Linked DNA regions of Homo sapiens. The gene in region 2 interacts genetically with the main gene of each other region. Each region holds a gene or a part of one and is shown on either strand. Other genes may lie near its edges. The genes, in order: NF2 and HECTD1.

The links.
Region 1: changes in HECTD1 (region 2) and NF2 together harm fitness more than expected from each alone (negative genetic interaction), as found in Homo sapiens cells (one large-scale study listed by BioGRID).

The regions. Positions count from the first base shown.
Region 1 is NC_000022.11:29,606,472-29,610,295, reverse strand, and holds part of NF2 (merlin), read right to left. Parts: intron 1-3,824. UniProt on the Homo sapiens protein: Probable regulator of the Hippo/SWH (Sav/Wts/Hpo) signaling pathway, a signaling pathway that plays a pivotal role in tumor suppression by restricting proliferation and promoting apoptosis.
Region 2 is NC_000014.9:31,201,179-31,205,002, forward strand, and holds part of HECTD1 (E3 ubiquitin-protein ligase HECTD1), read right to left. Parts: intron 1-3,824. UniProt on the Homo sapiens protein: E3 ubiquitin-protein ligase which accepts ubiquitin from an E2 ubiquitin-conjugating enzyme in the form of a thioester and then directly transfers the ubiquitin to targeted substrates.

The DNA.
Region 1 (3,824 bases), on a different chromosome or scaffold from region 2:
TAGCTCACTGCCTCCTCAACCTCCTGGGATCAAGTGATCCTCACACCTTAACCTCCTGAGTAGCTGGGACTCCAGGCTCACACCACCACGCCTAGCTGAGTTTAGATATAGTATGTATATTTTAGAGTTGGGGTCTCTCTATGTTGCCCAGGTTGGTCTCAAGCTCCTGGCCTCAAAGGATCCTCCTGCCTTGACCTCCCAAAGTGCTGAGATTACAGGCAACAGCCACTGTGCCCAGGTCTCTCTCTCTCTCTCTCTCTCTAATTATTTATTTATTTTTTAAGGGTATACTATCCTACCCAAACTTATATTTTTAAATTCCATTAGACTCATATTACCAAGCATATAAACAAATCACACATAACACGAAATAGAAAAAAACATTAAGACTTCCTTTGCTTTTGGAAAACAACTGAGAAACAACAAAATTCTTTTCAGAAATACAGAAAAAAATTGTTTTTATAGTGTAGCTAATATGCCCTCCTTAGACATTAAGACACTTTTCTGTTTGTACCCTTAATGCAGCCATATTTTTACTCTTTATAAAAATCAAGGCTCTCAATAAAAACAGTATCTCACTCACTAATCATTAAATTGCATCACTGAAAATGTAGTTATACACACCAATTTCTAACTTCTTAGAATACTCTGCACAATCAATTATAATCACTGAAACGAATAACTGCTCAAAAACGCAGAATGGCTTCAACTACACTATGATTTGGTAGTCAATATTCCTGTTTTCCAGTAAAAAGGAGATTTCATAAACAAACATTGGGCTCCTTAAGGTTTCATCAATCAAGAGAATCTTTCTGAGCAGCTTCTGAGCAAATGTTTCTTAACAGGCTGATCACAGATCTAGGGTCTTCACTCCTCACCATAGCACTGCCAGACACAATCATGTTAGCTTCGCCTCTGCACACCTATGGACAGTGTCAGGATCTATTCCACCAGCGACCTCTATAGCCAAAGATGGGAACTGGATCCTCAACCAGTGAACCTTTAACATCATATCTTCCATGAATTTATGCCCTCCAAACCCTGGTTCCACTGTCATAACCAAGGTCATACCTAGTTGATTAGCCCATGGTGCCAAATACTGAACTGAGGTTCCTGGTTTTATGGCAAGGCCAACCTTCATCCCATTCTCCTGAATGTCTTTAATCAAAGCCCCTGGGTTCTCAGTTTCCTCGAGATGAAAGATGTACTGATTGGCTCCTCTTATAGCCATTGGCTTTACCCACTGTTCTGGCTTGGACACCATCACATGCATGTTCATCCATTACATTCCGGTGGAGATAATCGACCCCAGAGTCTAGCATCCAGAGGCACTGGGCCCCTAAATTGGCCAGGTAGCATTGAGGATGGACAGGCCAATCTTGCAGCCCGATGCCATACTACTGGTTCCCAAGGGCAAGTTACCCCACGAGTCCCCTCAATTACTAATTTAATATCTTTACTTGTTATAGGTCTATTCAGATAGTGTCTCTTCTTGGGTCAATTTTGGTGGTTTATATCTTTCTAGGAGTTTGTCCATTTTATTGAAGTTATCTAATTACTTGGCATTCAACTGCCATTTTACTTTTTTTTGTATGTGTTTCACATCTTTTTTTTTTTTTTCAGGGCAGGGATGGAGTCTCGCTCTGTCACCCAGGTTGGAGGGCAGTGGCACGATCTCTGCTCACTACAACCTCCGCCTCCCGGGTTCAAGCAATTCTCCCGCCTCAACCTCCCAAGTAGCTGGGGTTACAGGCACCCGCCATCATGCCCAACTAAATTTTTGTATTTTTGTAGAGATGGGGTTTCACCATGTTGGCCAGGCTGGTCTTGAACTCCTGACCTCAGGTGATCCACCCACCTCAGCCTCCCAGAGTACTCCCAAAGCCACTGTGCGGTGGCTGAGGCAGGAGAATCGCTTGAACCAGGGAGGCAGAGGTTGCAGTGAGCCGAGATTGCCCCACTGCACTCCAGCCTAGGCAACAGAGCGAGACTCTGTCTCAAAAAGAAAAAAAAAATTAACGAATTCTTTCTTCACCCAGTTCAAATCTGTTATTGAGTCCTGAGTCCCTCTAGTTAATTTTTAAATTTGTTATTGTACTTTTTTTTTTTTTTTTTTTTTTTTTGAGACAGAGTCTTGCTCTGTTGCCCAGGCTGGTGTGCAGTGGCTCGATCTTGGCTCACTGCAACCTCCGCCTCCCAGGTTCAAGGAATTCTCCTGCCTCAGCCTCCCGCGTAGCTGGGACTACAGGTGCCGGCCACCACGCCTGGCTAATTTTTGTATTTTTAGCAGAGACGGGGTTTTACCATGTTGGTCAGGCTGGTCTCGAACTCCCGACCTCAGGTGATCCGCCCGCCTCAGCCTCCCAAAGTGCTGGGATTACAGGTGTGAGCCACCGCGCCCAGCTGTTATTGTACTTTCAACTCCAGAATTTTCATTTGATTCTTTTTTTATAATTTCTATATCTTTATGGATATTCTTTAATTGATGCAACAGTGTCATACCATCCTTTACTTCTTTGTCATCATATTTTCCTTTAGTATTGTGAATATATATAGTACTGTGAATATATATATAGGCCAGTTTGAAGCCTTTTTCATTAATTTGGCCCCTTGTCTCACAGGCAGTTGCTGCTGCCAGCTTTTTTCCAGTGTATGTGTCATATTTTCCTGTTTCTTTGTACGTCTCACAATTTCTTGTTGGAAACTGGACATTTTAGATAATATACTGTAGCAACTCTGGGGATTGGTACCCCCTCTCCAGGGCCAATTGTTATTTATTTGTTTAGCGACTGGCTGGATTATTTGAGTGAAATCCATTTCCCCTGAAAAGTGTTAAGGCCTATGATATTGCTCTTCAGGGAGGTGCAGCTTTGGGTATGCTCACAGTCACCCTGGGATGACAGTGGTTTTGGTAGGGTTCTCTTCTATTCTCTCCTTGACCACACCCAGCTATGAAGCTCCACTAATTGTGGCATATTGTTCTATTATTTTCAACAACACACTGAGGCATAACTTGCTCTTACTCTACAAACTGATACAATCAAATTGTGGCTGTTTGGAGGAAAGCATTTTTTTCCACCTCTGCCACATACCTTACTTTTCAAATTGTTTTTTATTGATTCATAATAGTTGTACACATGTTGGGGGTACCTGTAGTATTTCGATACATTAATATACAATGTATAATGATACAACCAGGACAGGAGGGACATCCACCACCTCAGAGGTCTGTGGTCAATGTTTTGTTTTGTGACAGGACAGAGCTTCACTGTCACCCAGGCTGGAGTGCAGTGGCGTGATCTTGGCTCACTGCAACTTCCACCTCCCAGTTCACGTGATTTTCCTGCTTCAGCCTCCCAAGTAGCTGGGATTACAAGTGTATGCCCCCATGCCCAGCTAATTTTTGTATTTTTAGTAGAGATGGGGTTCACCATATTGGTCAAGCTGGTCTCAAACTCCCGACCTCAGATGATCTGCCTGCCTCAGCCTCCCAAAGTGCTGGGATTACAGGCGTGAGCCACCATGCTGCGGTCAATGTTTGATCCTTCTTCTGATCCTAGAATGGCTTCTTCCAGCTGTCTTATTCCCCAATTCTTTCCAGCAAACCAGGAGGCCTACAGTCTAGGCTGCATCTCCATTAAATCCGCAGATCTCCCAGTTGCCTCTTACCAAAACCTTCACATCTCCAGATTGCCCTTAGGCATGAATTTCTCCACACTGTGTTGCAAATGAAGTCACTGCCATTGGAAAGAGATTAGGAGCTATCTGTTTTAGGGCCTGCTTCTCTCCTGAGGCAAAATCCCGGAGCCAAGGCTCTGGAGCTG
Region 2 (3,824 bases):
GAAATGATTAACAGTGGTTTCCTCTGGGAAGAGGAACCAAGTAACCAGGAGACAGGAAAGGGAAGACAACGGACTTTTTACTGTATATCCTTTTGTGCCCTCAAAATTAAGTGACATCATTATTTTTTAAATAAAGCCTACTAGCACCTAAAAGCATCTTCTGAGATGCTCAATTTCCAGAGGACATAACTTTCAAATTATATTCAGATTTAGTAGCAAGATCTAGAAATGCCCATAATACATATTTATAACATTAATACATATGATGATCACCTATTTTGATGTGAATACAAAATGCTCATTAGCTAATAACTCATATTACTATTACTTACTTTTTTTTTTTTTTTTGGAGGCACGGTCTCACTCTGTCACCGAGGCTGGAGTGCAATGGCACAATCTTGGTTCACTGCAACCTCCGGCTCCCAGGTTCAAGAGATTCTCCTGCCTCAGCCTCCCAAGTAGCTGGGATTACAGGCACATGCCACAGTGCTCAGCTAAATTTTGTATTTTTAGTTGAGATGGGGTTTCACCATGTTTGCCAGGCTGGTCTTGAACTCCTGACCTCAAGTGATCTGCCCACTTCAGCCTCCCAAAGTGCTGGGATTACAGGCATGAGCCACCGCACCCGGCCATGTTTACATTACTACATTTTAGAACTCGATACATCAGGTAAAAGCAAAAACGAATCTTGAACGTGTTTTACTTTCTGGAGCATTACCTTGATAAGTTCAGGCATTAATAAGAAGCACTGACACATCATAGAAGAAGTTATATTCGTTGAACTTCAGAAAGACACTGTCAAAATGGGTACAAACAGTGGAGAGCCGGCCGGGCGCGGTGGCTCACGCCTGTAATTCCGGCACTTTGGGAGGCTGAGATGGGTGGATCACAAGGTCAGGAGATTGAGACCATCCTGGCTAACACAGTGAAACCTCGTTTCTACTAAAAATACAAAAATTAGCTGGGCATGGCTAAAATAGCACTGCGCTCCAGCCTGGGTGACAGAGCGAGACTCTGCCTCAAAAAAAAAAAAAAAAAAAAGTGGAGAGCCATGTACAATACTAAGTTAAAGGAAAAAGAAATCCTTGACTATTATCCCATTTATTTTCAGAAAAATCCTGCAAGGATGAGGAAACAGACTTCAAAGGCTATCACACAACTATTCAGTGGAAAAGGCAGGTATCTGAACCCAAGTCTATCCCATTGCAGAGGCCACTGTTTCTACCACACCACCTGCCTTTCCTGACTAAACAGATGTGAAACTATTAAGACAAGCTAATTAAGCAAACATATTATCAGGACATACAGGCATGTTTTGGTTTATTAGACAGAACTAAGTCCTATTTGCTACTACTTTATGAAATCAAGGTAGTATGAAAGATTTTTACCAATATTCAAAATATGCACATCATCTTGCTTTTTTTGCCTGCTGGGAGTTGATTGTTTAAAAGAATTTTAAAAGACCTTTCCAAATCAATCACTTTATTCATGGAATAAAGTGCTAAAATAAAATTCAAAATTAGATATTTATTAATGATGGCATCAGTGGGTAGCCCACTTTACTCAAAACACTTAACATACATTCTCTCCTTTAATCCTCACAAGAAGGCCCACTGGAAAAAAGACTACTGGCTGGGCATGGTGGCTCACACCTGTAACCCCAGCACTTTGGGAGGCTAAGGCAGGTGGATCAGGAGATCAAGAGATGGAGACCATCCTGGTCAACATGGTGAAACCCCATCTCTACTAAAAATACAAAAATTAGCCAGGTATGGTGGCACGCACCTGTTGTCCCAGCTACTCGGGAGGCTGAAGCAGGAGAATCACTTGAACCTGGGAGGCGGAGGTTGCAGTGAACCAAGATCGCACCACTGCACTCCAGCCTGGGCAACAGAGCAAGACTTCATATGAAAAAACAGAAAAGAAAAAAAGACTACTGCCATTTTACAGGGGAAGAAAGTAAGGCTCTCAGAGGCTAATGAACACAACAGACCAAGAATCTGAACCCAAGTCTCTGATGCCACAGCCCATTCTTTCCATCTCACTATGCCTCCCTCACTAGTTTCAAGAAGGAACCAGGACAATTTTCCCTTGTAACAACAAGAAAATCTGGCTATAGAATGAAAAGCAAACTAATGTTTAAAAACAAAACAGTCACAAAATTAAACCAAATGTCTAGTTTTTGGAGGTTACTGGTACACTACCCCAAACACGGCTAACCCCTTCAACTTGAAATACTCTTGTATCTTCATATAGTAAATCATATCTGACTTAACTTTAGGTTCATTTCCTTAAAATTACATTATAAAGCCAGGTGTGGTGGCACAGCCTATAGTCCCAGCTACTGAAGAGGCCGAGGCAGGAGAATCGCTTGAACCCAGGAGCTCGAGGCCAGACTGGGCAACATAGTGAGGCCCCAGTCTCTTAAAAATTACATCATACTATATATGAATAAAGCCTAGAAAGGAAAATGGAAAAAATAACAGCTGTTATGTTAGGATGGAAGGATTTTACATAGAGATAAATTTTATGTTTTAAAAATTTCATTTAAATTGTTTTAACATGGCAACACTTTTTTTTTTTATTATACTTTAAGTTTTAGGGTACATGTGCTCAACGTGCAGGTTTGTTACATATGTATACATGTGCCATATTGGTGTGCTGCACCCATTAACTTGTCATTTACATTAGGTATATCTCCTAATGCTATCCCTCCCCCCTCCCCCTACCCCACAACAGCCCCCGGTGTGTGATGTTCCCCTTCCTGTGTCCAAGTGTTCTCATTGTTCAATTCCCACCTATGAGTGAGAACATGCATTTGGTGTTTTGTCCTTGCGATAGCTTGCTGAGAATGATGGTTTCCAGCTCCATCCATGTCCCTACAAAGGACATGAACTCATCATTTTTTATGGCTGCATAGTATTCCATGGTGTATATGTGCCACGTTTGCTTAATCCAGTCTATCATCGATCGACATTTGGGTTGGTTCCAAGTCTTTGCTATTGTGAATAGTGACACAATAAACATACGTGTGCATGTGTCTTTATAGCAGCATGATTATTATAATCCTTTGGGTATATACCCAGTAATGGGATTGCTGGGTCAAACGGTATTTCTAGTTCTAGATCCTTGAGGAATCGCCACACTGTTTTCCACAATGGTTGAACTAGTTTACAGTCAGTCCCACCAACAGTGTAAAAGTGTTCCTATTTCTCCACATCCTCTCCAGCACCTGTTGTTTCCTGACTTTTTAATGATCGGGCAACACTTTTTTAAATGTCATAACAAATACTTCTACTACATATTAGTACTAAACAGAAGCTACGAAATGACAATTGACTTGACTGACAAGTATGATTTTTAAAATACCAAAAGTAACTTTCAGGTTACCTCTAATGAAATCTATGAACGCAATTTTTAACTTGAGAGTCAGGATGAGGAAAAAAATAAAAAATAAAAATAAATTTTAAAAAATCTACTTTACTATAAATCCTGCTAAAACAAGTGTCAACTAAGGGCTAAGTTATTCTTACATACTCAAAATTCTGCCAATGACAAAAACTAATGGAAATAAATGGACCACTAACTAATTGTAATTTGGAAATTTTATTAGTAAGGATTTTTATCTTAGTACTGTTTTAACAAGAGTTACAACTGAAAGTTATTCAATAATCAAAAATGAAGGTACTTTAAAAATTTTGCCAACTGAGTAATATAAACTTTATTCCCACCTAAAACACATTAGGATAATTATACCAAATTTTTTAGGTCAACATCTCAAACATTTTCTACTAATTACCTTAAAATAGCATTAAAATGAATAA